Linked DNA regions of Homo sapiens: region 1 is linked to region 2. A link means that fine-mapping ties the variant in region 2 to the expression of a gene that starts in the linked region. Tissue or cell type: fibroblasts. Region 2 holds a variant in brackets; the other region holds the start of a gene. All regions are shown on one strand. Distances are between the middles of the regions.

Evidence for each region. PIP is the estimated chance that this variant, and not a neighbour inherited with it, causes the effect.
Region 1: it holds the start of FBLL1, and the variant in region 2 is fine-mapped to the expression of FBLL1 in fibroblasts (GTEx, PIP above 0.99). The same link has a PIP of 0.9 or more in T cells, esophagus mucosa, lung, ovary, spleen and thyroid.

Annotation. Positions count from the first base shown.
Region 1 is chr5:168,525,170-168,535,261 of GRCh38, reverse strand. It overlaps FBLL1 (fibrillarin like 1), which reads right to left and starts at 5,957. Exons shown (of 1, transcript NM_001355274.2): 1 at 4,628-5,957. The coding sequence starts at 5,757. The coding sequence ends at 4,753. RefSeq lists enhancers at 4,084-4,253, 5,109-5,650 and a silencer at 6,504-6,798.
Region 2 is chr5:168,476,080-168,486,171 of GRCh38, reverse strand. No RefSeq gene overlaps it. Among named protein-coding and RNA genes, the nearest start is that of RARS1, 5.3 kb to the left of the region's middle. RefSeq lists an enhancer at 4,442-4,551. The variant C/G (reference allele first, on the strand shown) is at 4,536.

The DNA of each region.
Region 1 (10,092 bases), 49 kb before region 2:
GCCTGGGACATGATAAGTGCTTGATAAATATTAGAGTAGCAGTATCCAATGTAGTGCTCACCATAGCTCAGATGAGCCAGAACATCTTGCTTAATGCAGGGTTGGCAGGGGAAAGTGCTAATTAATGGAACATGGTTTCTTCTTCCCATTTAAAACAGCCTCTTTTGGATAAAGCTTCATTCCCTCGGATCTTCTCCTGCCCCATTCTTTTTCCCTTCACCTCAGGAGGCATCTGAGCGAGGGAGAAGCTGGCAGACATCATGGTGCTGGTGGATGGGAGTTCTATTCCGCCTGTTCTCTGAGGCTTCTGCTGACGCTGTGGACACATGGCCCCTCTTGCCTGGCCTTTGAGCACCAGCCTCCACCCTCGCTGCCTCTGCTGCAGAGGTGACTGCAGCCAGGCACTCACTGATGCTTGGGTTGAGTCCTCTCCCGTGGCCCAGGATGGAGCCGCTGACTCTGAAACTCAGTGGCAAGCTCCCCCCAGCTCCCAGCACAGGGCAGTCCCCTCAGAAGACTTGCTAAGTGTGTTCCCCACCCCCTCGACTCCAAGGCAACCCCTGGCATTTATGTAAACTTTTATTTATTTACTTATTTATTCTGAGACAGTGTCTCGCTCTGTTGCCCAGGCTGGAGTGCAGTGGTGTGATCACAGCTCACTGCAACCTCGACAGTGTCTCGCTCTGTTGCCCAGGCTGGAGTGCAGTGGTGTGATCACAGCTCACTGCAACCTCGACTGTGTCTTGCTCTGTTGCCCAGGCTGGAGTGTAGTGGTGTGATCACAGCTCACTGCAACCTCCACTTTCCTGGGTTCCAGCGATTCTCCTGCCTCAGCCTCCCTAAGTGCTGGGATTACAGGCCTGAACACTGTGCTGGGCCCGTTTTAAACTTTTTTTTTTTTTTTTTTTTAAGAGACGGAGTCTCACTCTGTCACCCAGGCTGGAGTGCAGTGGTGCATTCTCGGCTCATTGCAACCTCTGCCTCCTAGGTTCAAGCAATTCTCCTGCCTCAGCCTCCCAAGTAGCTGGGACTACAGGTGCACGCCGCCATGCCCAGCTAATTTCTTTTCTATTTTAGTAGAGATGGGGTTTTATTGTGTTGCCCAGGCTGGTCTTGAACTCCTGAGCGCAGACAATCTGCCCGTTTCAGCCTCCCAAAGTTGTAGGATTACAGGGGTGAGCCACCACGCCCGGTCTTAAACTTAATTCTCAGCCACCTTATTATTCTCTATTGACAGTAAGAGGTGGGGGGAAAAAAACAGGCAGAGCACTTAGTGCCAGGCTGTTGGCAGGTATTTTCACATTAAACACTGGTCTCCTCAGCCAAAGCTCACAATCCAGTAAGACAGTCATTTTAGCTGAACATTCTCATCTAACCCTAGGGTTATGCACCGAATTGTGTCCCAGAAAATTCACAAATTGAAGCCCCAATCCCCAGTGTTACTATATTTGGGGATAGGGCCCTAAGGAGGTAATTAAGGTTAAAAGAGGTCCTAAGAGTAGGATCCTAATCCAGCAGGATTGGTATCCTTCTAAACAGGGGAAGAAACACCAAAGAGCTCTCTCTTTCTCACTGTGTGTGAACAGAGGAAAGGCCACATATATGACACAGCAAGAAGGTGGCCGATTACAAGCCAGGAAGAGAGTCCTCACCAGAAACTGAATTCCAGCACCTTGATATTGGACTTCTAGCCTCCATCCAGAATAGTGAGAAAATGAGTATCTGTTGTTTAAGCCACCTAGCATGTAGTATTTTGTTACAACAGCCTGAGAAGACTAATATACCTAGAGACCCAAATGTAAAGGCTTCTTGGAACCCAAGCTGATAGTCACTGAAGCATTCCTGGCTCTGAGCAGGTCTGTTAACCAGGGTCACTGCTACTTCTAGGTTTCTTGGGACCCAAGGCCCACTGGAGTTACAGTCCGATAATTTTTTTTTTTTTTTTTAGACAGAGTCTCGCAGTGACATGATCTCAGCTCACTGGAACCTCCACCTCCCAGGTTCAAACGATTCTTCTGCCTCGGCCTCCCAAGAAGTTAGGATTACAGTTGCCCGCCACCAGCTATTTTTTGTATTTTTAGTAGAGATGGGGTTTCATATGTTGACCAGGCTAGTCTCGACTCAAGGACTCAAGTTATCCATGTGCCTTGGCCTCCCAAAGTGCTGGGATCACAGGCATGAGCCACTGTGCCCAGACTATAGTCCCATTCTTTTCCCTGCCATCATCCTCTAAAACCAGGTTCCAGCTCCCTTCCTGTATTCCCTTGGCCCTTATTCCTATATTTTTCCTGGTACTCACCATGTCATTCCATTGGCTCAGGAACTCATCTGCAATGCAGGGAAATTCTTCAGGAGATTGTTTTGTTGCCATTTCCTCATGAATGGTTCCCTCTTTGAGAAGCTTCAGACATGACTTTAAATTTCACTTGCGGCAGGAGGGGCAGGGAATGGGAGTTCCCATGCCAAGGAAGGAGGTAGAGTTTCCCCTGCTTCATCCCCCATGCTGGGGGGAAAAACCTTTAAGGAGCAATCAAGAGCTCCTTTATGGAGCCCATCTGGCTCTGAGGAGGGGCTGGGTCATGGGCCTCAGCTGCTGCAGAGCCCCTCCCTCCTGAGTACCCAGCTGCTTCTGTCTTCCCCTAGTGAGGAAACAGTTCCTGTTCCCAGGGAGTCCACCCCAGCCTCAGGGCTTCATCACAGCAACTAATAAATTAGCCTAGGATTGGAGAGAGGGCTTTTCAAGGCAACAGAACCAGCACAGACTTCAGTGAAAATGACATAGGTTTTGGAGTCAGACTAACAAAGCTGTGATTTCTGGCTGTGAGCCTTTCTGGGGGATCTTAAACCAGGCACTTTCATCTCTGAACTGCAGTGTTCTTATATGCTAAATAGGAAAAGTGATCCTGGCTTTGCAGGGTTGTAATGAAGATTTCCATTGTTTATGGAAATAGACATGTACGGCATTCACTCTCTTCTTCCTGAGTCAGTCTTGCTGATACATCTGAACTGTAATTCCCTTTCTGAATTTTGGGGTGGCGTAGGATGGGGGAGTGGTGAAAGAGTGGCAGCCTTTTCAAAAGTCTGATTTGGACCAGGTGCCATAGCTCACGCCTCTAATCCCAGTGTGGGAGTCTGAGGCAGGAGGATTTCTTGAAGCAAGGAGTTCAAGACCAGCCTCGGCAACAAAGCGAGACACTGTTTCTCCACAAACATTTTTTTTTTAAATTAGCCAGGTGTGGTAGGCTGAGGCAGGAAGATCACTTAAGCCTAGGAGTTCAAGGCTGCAGTGAGCCATGATTGCGCCACTGCATTCCAGCCTTGGCGACAGAGCAAGACCTGTCTCAAATAAAATAAATAAAATAAAACAAAAATAAAAAGTCTGATTTATCCTTTGTTGTTGTTCAAGAAGTATGCCCTCAGAAAAAGCAGACTAACCACAATTGCTGCCCAAGCACATCTTTAGAAAGGCAAATCCACCCTCCAAATGATACATTAGTGAGCAATCATTCAAAGACTAAATGTTGATGTGGGTCTTTTTGGCAGTTGGGAGTGTGTATGCATGCATGCATGAATGAATGAAAAGTCTGGCTTGGAGGGATTTACTGGGCCTTTGGGGCATTCTCAGCTTTCCTCGGATTACCCACTCTCCCTTCCCTTTGGGCTGCTTTGGAGAGAGACTGCGAGGTACTGAGACCAGCAACTTGGGAAGTGCAGGACATGCCTTGCAAAGACAGATACTTTCTGGGAGTAATTTGTCTGCCTGTTCTGCAGACACTTGGTGATACCACTTTGGGTATGTTATGCCCTGTAGTAGAGACAGTCTGCTAGCTAGACCCACATCTGCCCCGCATCTTGTTTTGCTATTGTGAAACCAAACAAAGGGGTAGCCCGGGGGGGACAGGGGAGGGCGAAAGAACACAATAAGGTCACAGGGCCCTGCTCTAAGTGTGTCCCTGTGCACATGCCATAGGGGTTGGGGACCAGAGACAAGATCCCCCTGGTGCTGAGGAAACAGCAATGGATTTAGAGCCCCGAAGACTGGCATTTAAGTTCTACCTCCTTACTGGCTATGTACGTTTGGGCAAAATAGTTTACCTTCAGAAGCCCTGTTGCTTCACATGTAATATGCAAGTGCTAACAAAGCCATCTCAGGGCTGGTGTGAGGAATAAATTTAACATTTATTTATTATTCACTTTAACAGTGAATGCAAAAGGGCTTAGTTGAAGAGTAAAATACTAAAAACCTATTGTGGTTAAGACTTTGGCTGTGAGTCAGATGATTGGTGTGTTTGACTATATTATTGTCCACCAACATTCAGTGTTTTTCCCGAGTCAGGCTGGGTCATGTGACTTGGCCAAATGTGAGCAGAAGTGCCCCATCAGTTCCAAGGGGACATTTAAAAGCTTTTATTAGCAATTCCGCAGCTCTCTTTCCTCTGCCCTAGGGATGGGGGGAGCATGTGTGAAAATGGGGCCCTGGGGAGTTGGAGACCTGAGTGATTAGAATGAGCACAGCTCCCAGGCTACTGCTGGATGGGCCCCTTATACCAGCCGGTTTAGGCCACTGGGATTTGGGGGTTGATTGTTACTGCAGCAAAACCTAGCCTGGCATCACCATACAGATAGGTGCCGTTTCTTTATGCAGTTTAATAGAAAAACAACAAAACAAAACACTCACAAAGAAAACACACAGAAAATAATAGCAAACACAACGCAGCCTTGGGGAGATGGCAGGCGAGCCTGAGCTGGGTGCTATTTGCTGCTGCTCTTGGGAAGAGGTCGGTAGACCCCGACCACCACAGCGTGGTCCCGCTCATAGGGCTCCAGGGTCAGCTGCTCTTGAGGCTTCAAGTTCTCCTGCTGCAACTTCCTCACCTCAGAAGCAAACACAGCCTCGGCGGATGCGGTGGAGTCGATGCAGTTGGCCTTGATGGAGATGAGAAAGTGGCCCCCATTGCGCAGGAAGGTGTGGGCGTTCAGGGCCACGATGCGGGACTGGTCCGGCTGGGCCACGTCGGCGAAGATCACGTCCACCATCCCGATGAGCATGCGGTACTTGAGCGGGTGCCGCGCGTCCTCCAGGACCGGAATGATGTTGGTGCGCTTCTTGGCCACGTTGACCAGATCGCGGCCGGCGCGGTGGGAGAACTCGACGGCGTAGACCAGGCCGTCTGGGCCAATGATGTCGGAGACATGGGAGACGGTGGTGCCCGACGCGGCGCCCAGGTACAGCACCTTGGACTTGGGCTTGATGTGGATCTGGTCCACCCCGCCCAGGATGGCCGCGGCCAGCTTAGAGCGGAACGGGTTCCACGTGCGGTACTCCTGCTTCACGCCGCCCTCGGTCACCGTGACGCGCCTCTCGCCGTACACAGACTGGCCCGGCACCATGTTCAGCGTGACCAGCGCGTCCTCCGCCCCGCGGTAGATGAAGACGCCCTCGTGCCGGTGCGGCTCCACCGACACCACCATGGCGCCCTTCCTGCGGCGGCTCTTGCTCTTGGCCACGCCGCCCCGCCGCTGTCCACCGCCGCCGCGATCCTTGCCGTCGCCGCCGCCGCGCCCCCGGCCCCGGCCGCCCCCGCCGAAGCCGCGCGCCCGCGCCCCGAAGCCGCCCTTGCCCCCCTGGCCGCCGCCGTCGCCCCCGCCGCCCTTGCCCGCGCCGCCGCCGCCGCCTCGGCCCCCGCCCCAGCTGCCCCAGCCGCCGCCCCCGCGGCCGCCCCCACCGCCCCCGCGCGAGCTCGCGGCCGACTTCATGGCACGCACCGGGGCGGGTGCCGTGGGTTACCGGTGCCTCGGGGCGGGTGTCAGGGGGCTCTGGTGGCTCTGGGTGGTCGTCCCGGCGGTTGTCCGCGGGTTTAGCAGCGGAGGCGGGCGGCGGGCGGCGGGCGGCGGGGGCAGGACGGGCTCTACCGCAGTGCCCGCATCCCGGAGCCGCCCCTTGACGCAGCGGCTGTGGCGCGATTGCATCACACCCGTCCCCGCGACCCTGCGGCCCGGAAGCCCCGCTTCCCAGCCCGCGTGCAGACGCAGCCTGCTCCTCTTCGCTCACCCTGCCCCTTCCCCATCTCCCGCCTTCCCAGGGATCCCTGGCACTTCCCTGGGCCACAGGGACGGGGGCGTCTCTGCTGCAGGAGAGGGGGAGGTAAGCATCAGCGTCGGTCCTGGCTGTGCCACCAGTTCTGGGACTATTGATCAGCAAGGAAGTGTTGTTGATTCTTCAGTGTGAATGGGGATACACAGAGAGCCAAAATGTCATGTTCATCCTCGAAGTCTAGTCTATGCTTCAAAGTCACTCTCTAAATCTGCAGCATTTTCTTGAGGAAAGAAAGAAAAAGAGAAAAAGAAAGAAAGAGAGAGAAAGAAAAGAGAGAGAGGGAGAGGAGAAGAAAAGAAAAGAATAATTGGGCAGCACCAAGGGCAGCAACGAGAAGAAAAGAAAAAAAGAAAAGAACAGAAAGAAAATAAAAGAATAACTCGGCACCACCAATGGCCCCAAGGCCGCAACGCAGAGGCTTTAGGGTTTAGTCAGCACCAGGGACAGCGACAGCAGTTGGGGCCCCCGTTTTGGCTACTGCTAGGGGCTTTGGGAACCACACAAGAGCTGGGGAAAGTAGGATAGGTGGTGAAACAACTGGCCAGCCTCCCGTTAGTTGAATTAAGTGTCTACTCGAGAGAGAGAGAGAGAGAGACAACGCGCACCTGAAGATCGGAGCATTTACTGAACACCTGGTATGTGCAGTATGACTTCCGTTCCATCCTGGACCACAGCTCTTCCCGTCTCATACTCATGGACGACAGTGCCAGGTCTGATTTTCCCTGAGGACTGGAGTGTCTCCTTAATGGGGACCAGAGTTTTATACACTGGAATGTGAACAAGGGATCAGTGAGTGAAATGTATGATTCCTGAGGTTGAATGGTTCACATAAAATACTCTACTTAGAGGTTTCCATTCTTGCTATAAGGTGAATATTTTCCAAAATGATGAACTACACTTGGTGTCTGTGAGGGTTAATTTTATGTGTCAACTTTACTGGGCCATGGGATGCCCAGATATTTGGTCAAATAGTATTCTGAGTGTTTCTGTGAGGGTGTTTTTTGATGAGATTAACATTTAAATTGGTATATTGAGTAAAGCTGATTGCCGTCTACGATGTGGCTGGGCCTCATCTAATCAGTTGAAGGCAGAAATAAAGCAAAATGCTGACCTTCCCCACGGAAGAGAGAATTCTCCTGCCCAAGGGCCTTTCAACTGGCACATCAGCTCTTTCTGCCTGACAACCTTTGGACTGGGACATTGGCCCTGCGGATTTTGGACCTGCTGGTCTCCACAATCACATGAGCCAATATATATCCTATATATACACACATATATATATCCTACAGGCCTGTGTCTTTGGAGAACCTTGAATAATAGAGATCCTGAGACAAAGCCTTGAGTCCAATTGGTTTGTGAGGTGATCCCAGGAAGCACATGTTGGGGAGGCAAAAATGAGATAGAGAAGATAGAAAGGTTAAGAAAGAACTGGGCACAGTGCCTCACACCTGTAATCCCAGCACTTTGGGAGGCCAAGGTGGGAGGATTGATTGAGCCCACGAGTTCAAGACCAGTCCTAGCATGATAGCAAGACCCTGTCTCTACAAAAATAAACAAGACTTAGCCAGGTGTCATGGTGTGTACCTGTAGTCACTGTAGTACCTGTAGTCACTGTAGTACCTGTAGTACCTCAGCTACTGAGGAGGCTGAGCTGGAGGGGTCGCTTGAGCCTGGGAGATCAAGGCTGCAGTGAGCTGAACTCACACCACTACACTCCAGCTTAGGTGACAGAGGGAGACCCTGTCTCAAAAAAAAAAAAAAAAAAAAAAAGAGGGTAGATTAATGAGTAGATGACCACAGTGGACAATGGGAGCTCAATTGCTGTGAGTATTCTGAGAAACTGTGTGGAAGGCATCTCAGAATTGTTCTACTGCAGGTTGGAGGCTGGGGCATTAATCCACTGTCTTAATTTGTTTCTATACCTGAGACTGGGTAATTTATAAAGAAAAGGGCTTTATTTTTTCTTTTTTTATTCTAAGATAGGGTATCACTCTGTCACCCAAGCTGAGTGCAGTGGCACAATCATGGCTATTGCAGCCTTGATCTCCCAGGCTCAAGCAATCCTCCCACCTCAGCCTCCTGAGTAGTTGGGACTACAGGTGTGTGCCACCACACCAGGCTAAAATTTTATTCTTTATAGAGATGGAGCCTCACTATGTTGCCCAGGCTTGTCTCAAACTCCTGGACTCAAGCAGTTCTCCTGTTTCAGTCTCCTAAAGTGCTGGGATTACAGGTGTGAGCCACAGTGGCCAGCCAGGTTTCTTTCTATATAGGTATAAACCATCATGCCTGGCAATTTTTTTTTTTTTTTTTTTTACTTTTTGTAGAGATGAGACCTCATTATGTTGCCCAAGCTGGTCTCCAACTCCTGGCCTCAAGCCATCCTCCTGCCTCAGCCTCCTGAGTTGCTGGAATTCTAGGCACAAGCCTCCACACTTGGCACCATGTATACTTTTGTTTACAATTGACTTGTTATTCCAGAAGATGTGCCCTAAAGTAATGATCATAATTACATCTGTGACTAGGCCTCAGTAGTAGACATAGTGCACATCAATCATTCCCATAGACTTAAAAAATGCATGAGGAATTTTGCTTATTTTCTCACAGAACCATTCCAACAAATTGCCCAAGGAGTAACTAGCCATGATTGACATGAAACCAGAGGTAATACTCTATAACCCCATCTCCATTCTCATTATACTTTAAGCATCCATGCATGAAGAAACTTGTTTTCTCTAAGCCATGGTCCACCTCCAAAGGTGACTGACTGTAGGGATCTGATCTCCACCCCAGTGACAGGTGCAGCTATATTTGCTCAAGAGGAGTTGGGCTATGATGCAGTAACATAGAACTCCAAAATCTCAATGTATTAATACAGCTATGTTTAGATTTCTTATGTTTTATGTCCACTGAGAGTCAGCGGGAGGTTTGCACCACACAGCCACTGAAGAACTCAGGCCCCAACATCTTGTGGCTGCAACATGAGAAAAAAGAGGGCCTCCACTGTACTGCTGAAGAATAGAGTGCAGAGAACTCACAACCTTTTTGTATGTTTAGTCTGGACTTTGACACAATCATTTCTACTCACCACGGATTGCAGCCTTGATCTCCCAGGCTCAAGCAATTCTCCCACTTCAGCCTCCTGGCTGATGACTGGCCAAAGCCAGTCACATGCCCTGCCTAGCTGAAAGGCAGCTGAGATATGTGGGTGCCATAACTGGGGAACAGTAAATGTTTTTACCTAGGTGTCTACTGCATAATGCCAGCTGGCACACCTGGATCAGTGCACCAAACACAAACACCTCAGGTGAAATTTACTGTTTGGCGTGCATATATTTAAATTTACTCGTCAAGACAAAATATAATACCTCCTTCCTAACACGACTAAAACTCACAATCTTAGTCAACTCCCAATAATATATCTAATATAGCTGGTTAATTAATTAGAAAAAGAGAATCTTCTCCCTTTTTGTAGCCTCTGGGACTTGGAAAGTAGCTAAAATCCCTTATTTGGGATGTCATTATTGTTTGGCCATTACTTCTGCTGGGGGACACTTCGTCTCTTGGTGGCTCAGACTCTTACTCCATTCCCCACTGTAGAATTAGTGGCTGCCATTCAGGAAATGCTCAAAAAGCTTAGCTGGCCTACTTTTGCAAAGGTCTTCTTTCCACAAGACACCTTAGAAATTCTCTGTAATTCTTCATTTTATAGAATAAGAATCTGAAATTTGGGCTGGGCGTAGTGGCTCATGCCTGTAATCCTAGCACTTTGGGAGGCTGAGGTGGGTGGATCACTTGAGCTCAGGAGTTCGAGACCAACCTGGAAAACATAGTGAGACCCCATCTCAATACATAAAAAAAAAATTCTGGCCGGGCGTGGTGGCTCACACCTGTAATCCCAGCACTTTGGGAAGCCGAGGCGGGCGGATCACAAGGTCAGGAGATCGAGACCATCCTGGCTAACACGGTGAAACCCCGTCTCTACTAAAAATACC
Region 2 (10,092 bases):
ACAAAACTAACAAATCCATTCATTTATTCAACAAACATTTATTGTGTACTTTAAAATGCCAGACAGTATTCTAGGCTCTGGGGGCACAAAGAAAACAAAACAGACACGATCTCCCCTCTCACGGCAGACACATTTTAGAATGGAGAGAGAAAATAGACCAAAAAAGGCAATAATCTCAGGTAGTTTTAATTGCTAGGAAGGCAATGTGATAGAGTGACTTGGGTGAGAGAAGACATCTCTAAGCAAGTGACATTTGAGTTAAAATCTTATTTATTTTTCCAGTTTTATTGAGGTATAATTGACAAAGATTGTATATCATAACGATGTACAACGTAATGTTTTGATATATGTATACATTCTGAAATGATTACCACAACCAAAATAATTAACATAACCTTCATCTCATACAGTTATCATTTGCATGTGTGTGTGTGTGTGTGTGTGCGCGCGCGCGCGCGCGCGTGTGTGCTGTGAACATTTAAGATCTATTCTCATCCTGGGAAACAGCTAAGACCTCGTCTCTACAAAAAAATGGAAAAATAGCCGGGCATGGTGGCATGTGCCTGTAGTCCCTGGTATATAGGAGGCTGAGGTGGGAGGATCACTTGAGCCCAAGAATTTGAGGCTGCGGTGAGCCATGATCATGCCACTGTACTCTGCCTGGATGACAGAGTGAGACCTTTTCTCTCTCTATTTAAAAACAAACAAAACGAAACGAAAACGAAAACTGCAAGTATACAATATACATTACATCTCTAGAATCTATTCATCCCGCCTAACTGAAACTTTGTAACTTTGAGCAACATCTCCCATCTTTCCTACCTCTGAAGCCCTGACAACCACCATTCTATGCTCTGCTTCTATGAATCTGAATTTTTTAGATTACACATATACATGGGCTAATGTAGTATTTGTCTTTCTGTGCCCGGCTTATTGCACCAACATAATGTTCTCCAGGTTCATCTATGTTGTCACCCATAACAGGGTTTTCTTTTATAAGGCTGAATAATATTTCATTGTATATATATTGAGTTAAAATTATAAACAGCAAACCTGGGATATATGTTCTAAGAGGGCAGGGACCTTAATTATCTTGTTCACTCTTCTCTATGACTCCAGAACTTAGAAAGTAGCACTCTAAACGTTTTCGCTTCCGTGCCTCATAAAAGTATTTTAAAAATTCATATCCCAGTGTATACTTTTAAAAGTTGACATCGAGCTAGGCACAGTGGCTCATGTCTGTAATCCTAGCACTTTGGGAGGCTGAGGCAGGCAGATTTCTTGAGCCCAGGAGTCCAAGACCAGCCTGGAAAAAATGGTGAAACATCGTCTCTACCAAAAATACAAAACATTAGCCAGGCATGGTGGTGTGCACCTGTAGTCCCAGCTATATAGGAGACTTAGGAGGCAGGATTGTTTAAACCCAAGAGTTTGAGGTTGCAGTGAGCCATGATCTGGCCACTGCACTCCAGCCTGGGCAACGGAGTGAGACTCTGTCTCAAAAAAAAAAAAAAAAAAAAAAAAAAGACATCTAAAAACTCTTTTCACAACTTCTGGGAATGGATTATTTTCTGGCATGATGTTTCATAAGTGCTCTCACTATATTTTCGTCAAAACTGTGGATTTGCAAGTTTAGCTTGTCCAATTTATGGAACATGTCGGCCATATTGTTTCATTGGCAAAGCCAGTCCTCTTTGTCCAATTAAATAATCCAAATTATTTTACTTAATTTTTAACAAGCTTAAAGTTTGCCTTTATCTTTTTTCCTTTTAAATTAATTAATTAATTTTACCCAGAACTATATAAACTATCCTTTATTTTGTAAATCAAATAAAAGTGTTAATATACCAGTCCTTCCTTATCCGTGGGAGATACATTGCAACACCCCTCAGTGGATGCCTGAAACCGTGAATAGTACCAAGCCCTATATATATACTATGTTTTTTCAATCCAGTAATTCAGAGGGCTAATAAGTGACTAATGGGTGGGTAGTGTAGACAGCATGAATTTGTTGGGCAAGGGGGGATTCATATCCTGGGCAAGACAGAATGGGACGGTGGAGATTTCATCATGCTACCAAGAAATGGCATGCATTTTAAGACCTATGAATTGGTTATTTCTGAATTGGTTATTTAAGCCTATGAATTGGTAATTTTCCACTTAATATCTTGAGCACATAAGTAGGGGGGACTACTGTGCATGTTCCTGAAATGGCATTTGCAAAATTATGACAGTAAGAGAAATTTGACATCTTGCTTCACAGGCTGTCTGTCTTTGCTCATTTCTGGGCATGGGCCAAGCTAACTTTGTGGAAAATTTAGTTTATAGTTGAAATGATATTAGCCCTTCCCCAAAATCAAAGTGTTCTTGTAAAACTAATGCAAGGCAACTAAACTATGAGAATGAGAGGGACTTGAATTCTAAATAATTGTCAGCCATTATTCTGGAGGTCAGATTTGCAACTTCTGCAATAACTCTTGCAGATAACATTACTATTGTAGAACCTAAGATTGGCCTTTTGAGATGTCTTTTCAGGTTTGTGCATTTCTGACAACCGGGTGGCCCCACCTGGACCCACCAGTCAGTCCTGTGGCCCCTACCCAGGAACTGACTCAGCACAAGAGGACAGCTTCGATTTCTTATGATTTCATCTCCAACTCAACCAGTTAGCATGTTCCCTACCCTACCCCACTGCCCAGCAAACTATATTTGAAAAACCCCTAACCTAGGAGCCTTCAGGGAGATTGATTTGAGTAATAACTCCGTCTCTTACACTGTGTGGCCAGACTTGTGTCAATTAAACTTTCTTTATTGCAATGCCATGGTGCCCATGAGTCAATTTTGTTGTGCAGCAGGCAGGAAGAATCCACTGGGTGGTTACATCACTCTGATACCTTATTTCTAAGTTCTGAGAAAGATGGAGGGAGGGATGGACAAGCTGGTGGATAGACAAAGGGATAGGCAGATAGATCTCTATCTTCAAGATAAAGGAGGAAATAAAAACAGTCAATCATTTTACTAAGCCCTCTTTGTTTAGCGCTCAAGGATATGCCCTGTGGAAAAATAGGTTCTTCAATGAGAACACTTGGACACAGGAAGGGGAACATCACCCACCGGGGCCTGTTGTGGGGTGGGGGGAGGGGGGAGGGATAGCATTAGGAGATATACCTAATGTAAATGACGAGTTAATGGGTGCAGCACACCAACATGGCACATGTATACATATGTAACAAACCTGCACGTTGCGCACATGTACCCTAGAACTTAAAGTATAATAAAAAAATATATCTATATATATATATAAAGAAAGTGTTTTCAAAAAGAAAAGGAAAAATATGTTCTAGAAGTGTCCCTTGTTCAATTCCTGTTAGTTTACACCCAGGCAATGTGGAGTCCTAATTTAGGGAGGGGGAGTTGGGCTGGTAAGGATGAAGGAAAGCAAAAAGAAAAGGCAGGTAAGCTATAAGTCTACCTTTCTTCGTGGTTCAGGATACATAGTCCTCCTGTGCAAATTACTCACCATCTTCCTGCACCCAGCTATTACCAGACACCTCAGCTGATAGAAAAATGCAAGTTAGCTCACTGCAACCTCAGCACTATCAGTACTGCACAAAGCCCTCTTAACACACAGCCCAAGCACCATTCTGTCAAATCCCGAGCAAACGTTTGTTTCCTGGCAGTCAGCTCCTCTCTTGCTGATTTGCTTGTTGCACCCTTGCAACATACTTTCCTGCTTTGTCTAATAAATCTGCCTTTCTTTACCTACAACTGTATTGATGAATTCTTTTTACCACCTGCGTGACACGGGCCCCAGAGAGTCGCTACCCACGACAGGCAATGGAAAAGGGTGCTATGCTTTTCTTTGTGGAAGGGGAGATGTAAAAGGAGAATTGGAAAACTGAGTTTGCAGGCCAATCAATTTTAGAAAAGAGTATACAAAAATTCAGGATTTCCCTAGTATATCTGGGCCCACAGATCCCTTTGAAGGGTCTTCCCAACTGTGCTATATGCACCTCAGGGTACAGGACTTCCAAATCTCCCAACCAAAAAAAGGGGGGAATTGGGTACTAGCCCAGGTGGAGAGACTGGCAAAAGTGAGAGCATATAGGAATTTGTAAGTTGTACAGGACTTCCTGTACCCCGAGGTACGTATAGCCCAGCTGGGAAGACTGTTCATCTTGTTGACCTAAAGGAAGAAACTGAAGCAAAATTAATATAAGTAGAGAGTCTATTTGGGCCAGGGTTGAGGTCTACAGCCTGGGAGTCATGGATTCAAGTTGCCCTGAATATATGCTCCGATTAGCAGCCGTTACAAGTGGATTAAAGATTAAAAAAAAGATGAAAAAGTTAGGATGCAGTTCCTAAGCTGCTTACCAAGAATTTACAATGGTTCATTAAAATAAGCTATCATTTGTCTATACATTGATCTTTGTACCACAAACCCCAGGAACGTGAAGATAATAGGTGAGGGTCACATTGTGTAACTTGTGGTAACATTGTGGGTAATTTATCAGCTAGTCTGAAATTACAGAAAA[C/G]GAAAGAGAAAACAAAATGCCTCTAAGCAATTACCCCCAGGCATGGGTGCCGAGGATGTGACAGGTGTCTCCTGCTCCTGTCTGGGCCTAACCAATTTTGCATATCTCACATTCCTCAGACTGCTCTGAGCCACTTTCTCAATGTAGAGCAGTGCTTGACACAGGGCATTGCTCTAAAAGTGTTTCTTAATTGAATGAGTAGGAAGGTTCTATGCAGTGAGACTAGCAAATGCAAATGAGGCAGGAGCTAAGTTTAGAGTATGGTCGATGATGGACTGCTCATGTGATGATGGTACCATAAGATTATAATGAACCTGAAAAATTTCTATCACCTAGCGACAACCTTGATGAGTCTGACCCTGTGTAGGCCTAGGTTAATGTGTATGTTTGTGTCTTAGTTTTTAACAAAAGAGTTGTAAAAGTGGGAAAAAACCTCTAGAATAAGGCTATAAAAATGTTTTTGTACCTTTGTACGTTGTTTTGTTTTAAACAACTGTTATTATAAAAGAGGCAAAAAATTAAAAAATTAAAATGTTTATAAAGTAAAAATGTTACAGTAAGCTAAGGGTAATTTATTACTGACGAAAGAACATTTTTAATTTTTTATTTCTATTTTTGTAGAGATGGGAATCTCGCCATTTTCCCAGGTTGGTCTTGAACTCCTGGGCTTAAGGGATCTTCCTGCCTCTTCTGGGTTTACAGGCGTGAGCCAACATGGCTGGCCAAAATTTTTAAAGTAAATTTAGTGTAGCCTAAGTGTACAATGTTTAAAGTCTACAGTAATGGACAGTAATATCCTAGGCCTTCACATTCACTCACCACTCACCCACTGATTCACTCAGAGAAATTTCCAGTTTTGCAAGTTCCATTGATGGAAAGCCCCTATACAGGTGTTCTTTTTTTAATCCTTTTTTTTTTTTTTAATTATTGTTTTGAGATGGAGTCTCGCTCTGTCACCCAGGCTGGAGTGCAGTAGCGCCATCTTGGCTCACTCCAACCTCCACCTCCCTGGTTCAAGTGATTCTCCTGCCTCAGCCTCCTGAGTAGTTGGGATTACAGGCATGCACCACCATGCCCGGCTCATTTTTTGTAATTTTAGTAGAGACAGGGTTTCGCTATGTTGGCCAGACTGGTCTTGAACTCCTGACCTCAGGTGATCCACCCGCCTCAGCTTCCCAAAGTGCTGGGATTACAGGCGTGAGCCACTTCACCTGGCCCTATTTTTTATCTTTCATTCCCTAATTTTACTGTACCTTTTCTATGTTTAGAAACACAAATACGTCCATTGCATTACAGTTGGCATTACAGTATTCAGGACAGTAATGTGCCATACAGGTTTGGAGCCTAGGAGCAATAGGCTACACCATATAGCCTGTGTGTGGAGTAGGCTCTACCATCCAGGTTTGTGCAAGTACACTCTCTGATGCTCACACAACAAAATTGCCTAATAGCACATTTCTCAGAATCTGTCCCCATCGTTAAGTGATACATTACCGCATTTGAAAAAAAAAAGGCCGGGCGCGGTGGCTCACGCCTGTAATCCTAGTACTCTGGAAGGCCGAGGCGGGAGGATCACGAGGTCAGGAGATCGAGACCATCCTGGCTAACACGGTGAAACCTGTCTCTAGTAAAAATACAAAAAATTAGCCGGGCGTGGTGGTGGGTGCCTGTAGTCCCAGCTACTCAGGAAGCTGAGGCAGGAGAATGGCGTGAATCCGGGAGGTGGAGGTTGCTGTGAGCCGAGATCGTGCCACTGCACTCCAGCCTGGGTGACAGAGCAAGACTCTGTCTCAAAAAAAAAAAAAAAAAAGGAGGGGGGGATTGGGTACTGGCCCAGATGCAGAGATTGGCAAAAGTGAGAGCATATAAGAATTTGTAAGTTGTTGGGGCTCGGAAACCGATACCCCAAAATATGGTGCTTTGACATACTGAAGCGAAGAACACTCAAGGTTTCTCTGACCTTCTCCCTCACCCCATCTTTCCCAAAGAAGTTACAGTTTCTTTATCTGCCTGAGATCCAGACACACTAAGTAAGGCACATCAAGGACGACTCTTTTTTCTTCCCTTTCCTGTAAAACCAACAGTGTAGCCACACTTGAACAGACCTTTTCACAAGATAATGTACACGTTAATATCTGTTCCCTAATCCATCCATTCTCCCTAAAAATCCCCTCAACAGAACTCCTCTTCCCCCACTCCCATAATCTGTTTTGCCAGGATGACATATACACTTAGGCACCACCTTGCGGGGTGAGCAATTAATTACTCAGTGGTTGCACTGAGTAATACACAGCAAATTTGTAAATACCCTGTGTATATACCCTGTGAATATACAGCAAATAAACTTGTATGCCTTTTTACCCACTAATCTGCCTTTTGCAAGTTGATTTTCCAGTGAAACTTCAGGAGGCCAAGGGGAAAGCTTTCCCTTTCCCTTTACCCACGTAAAGTCAAGGCAGGGGTTTTTTATTTTATTCTATGCACAATGGGAACCATTAGAGGGTTTGGATGAGTAGATGGGTGGTGAATTTTTGTTGGGTGGTGTTGGCTGGGCACGGTGGCTCACGCCTGTAATCCCAGCACTTTGGGAGGCTGAGGCGAGCGGATCACGAGGTCAGGAGGTCGAGACCATCCTGGCTAACACGGTGAAACCCCGTCTCTACTAAAAATACAAAAAATTAGCCGGGCGTGATGGCGGGCGCCTGTAGTCCCAGCTACTTGGGAGGCTGAGGCAGGAGAATGGCGTGAACCCGGGAGGCGGAGCTTGCAGTGAGCTGAGATTGCTCCACTGCACTCCAGCCTGGGTGACAGAGCGAGACTGCGTCTTAAAAAAAAAAGAAGGGTGGTGTTATGGGCTGAAATGTATTCCCCCAAAGTTCTTAAAGTCCTAACGCCCAATATCTCAGAATGTGACTATTTGGAAATAGGGTCTTTAAAGAAGTAATAAGTTAAAATGAGGTCAAGAGGGCCAGGCAAAGTGGCTCATTCCTATAATCCCAGCACTTTGGGAGGCCAAAGTGGGCAGATCAACTGAGGTCAAGAGTTTGAGACCAGTCTGGTCAACATGGCAAAACCCCATCTCTACTAAAAATACAAAAATTAGCTGGGTGTGGTGGCATGCACCTGTAATCCCATCTACTCAGGAGGCTAAGGCAGGAGAATCACTTGAACCTGGGAGGCAGAGGTTGTGGCGAGCTGAGATCGCGCCACTGCACTCCAGCCTGGGTGATGGAGAGAGGCTCCATCTCAAAAAAAAAAAAAAAAAAAAAGAGGTCATGAGGATGGGCCCTAACTCAACATGACTGGTGTCCTCATAAGAGGAGATTAGGACGCAGATACAGACACACACAGAGGTAAGACCATGTGAACACACAGGGAGAAAGTGGCCAAGGAAAGAGTCCTCTGAAGACACTGACCCTACCTGCCAGGACCTTGATCTCAGAATTCCAAGAAGTTCAGGTCAGCAATGATAAATCAAAATGGTAGCAGAAAAAAAAATGGATAGATTTATGATATATTTTAGAGACAGAATTGGCAGAACTTGCTGGTGGATTAGGAGTCTAAAAATGAGGACATGGGTTAAGAGTGTCAAGTGGCTGGGCATGGTGGGTCACGCCTGTAATCCCAGCACTTTGGGAGGCAGAGGTGGGCAAATCATGAGGTCAGAAGTTCGAGACCAGCCTGGCCAACATGGTGAAATCCCATCTCTACCAAAAATACAAAAATTAGCCGGGAGTGGTGGCGGGTACCTGTAATCCCAGCTGCTCAGGAGGCTGAGGCAGGAGAATCACTTGAACCCAGAGGTGGAGGTTGCAGTGGGCTGAGATCGCACCACTGCACGCCAGCCTGGGCAACAGAGTGAGACTGTCTTAAAAAAAAAAAAAAAGAGTCAAGAGAAGAATGATGAGGTTCATAAATTTGGAGAGGACAGCTTTATTTCACATAAAGAGTTGCATGCTGCAGGTGGCCACTCTGACAGGCTGGAAAGTGTAGCCTCCAGCCAGTAGCTGAAAACATGCACTTTGAGGGAAGGGCAGAGGAAAAAAGAATGTGTGCTGAGCAGGTGGCCAAATATATATATTTAATAAGCTGTAGGAGGGGTCACTAATATCTATGAAAGGAGAAACGTGTGCCTGCGCAACTGAGCTTCATGCCCCTTCATGGGACCCCTGTACAAAACATGGTGTCCTTACCATGATCTGAGGGTGGAGCTTCTGGGCCTCTGATGTCAAAAGGCGAAGGGGAGGATATGAAAACCCTCCCTGCACATCCGTTGTAAACTGGCCAGAACCATTCAGTGGTGGGTGGCCTCTTATCAGGAAGGAATGCATGTTGGTTGTTGTGGTGAAATGGCAAAAGGGAGGGGGAGTTGGTGGAAATCAGCGGTGAAGCCAGGCTTTCCAAAGGTCTGGTTTCTGTTTAGATTTTAGGAAAGAATGCCTACTGGAAGCTAGGGAGGGCGGGGGTATAAGGAGGTGTGTCCCACCTCCAGATGCCGTCCCGGGCTCTCCTTGGCCAACAGGATAGGACATCCATTCAGTCCGTCATGGGGCTTAGGATTTTGGTTTTACTTCTCAAGAGAAAATGAACTGACTAGGAAGAAATGAAAAAAGCTATGGGGAGGGAAAGAATGACTGGAACCTTAAATTTTCCTTCTAGTGGTAAAGTTTTAATGACCCAGCTCTGATCACACACTACTTGTTTCCATAGGGAATAATGTTGATTTCCCCATCAATCTGTAAATGCTGTTTACTAGTTTTTAACTTTCTAAATCAACTCACAGCAGAGGAAGCTTTAGGATTACATGATTACAGAGCAGTGCGTAAATGTGATACCCTTTTTTAAACTATATAAAAATAATAATGTAACTAAGAAAAATTAGAAGTTGTGGCTGGGAAGGAGAAAGGGTAAGTATGTGCCATAATGTCCTCATCTTTATGGTGATGAGTGGAGAGGTCTTACTGAAGATGATGAATAAAAATAATACAGGCCATTTTTATTTTATTTTATTTATTTTTGAGACAGAGTCTCACTCTATCGCCCAGAGGTGGAGTGCAGTGGCACAATCTTGGTTCACTGCAACCTCCGCCTCCCAGGTTCAAGCAATTCTCCTGCCTCAGCTTCCCAAGTAGCTGGAACCACAGGCCCACACCACCCCGCCTGGCTAATTTTTGTATTTTTAGTAGAGAAGGGGTTTCACCATATTGGCCAGGCTGGTCTCAAACTCCTGACCTCAGGTGATCCACCTGCCTTGGCCTCCCAAAGTGCTAGGATCACAGGCATGAGCCACCGTGCCTGGCCTACTGAGCATTATTTTATTTTTAAATTTTATTTATTTATTTTTTTAGAGACAGAGTCTCGCTCTGTCACCCAGGCTGGAGTGCAGCGGCATGATCTCGGCTCACTGCAACCTCTGCCTCATGGGTTCAAGCAATTCTCCTGCCTCAGCCAAACGAGTAGCTGGGACTACAGGCGCATGCCGCCACACCCGGCTAATTTCTTCTGTATTTTAGTAGAGACAGGGGTTTCACTGTGTTGCCCAGGTTGGTCTTGAACT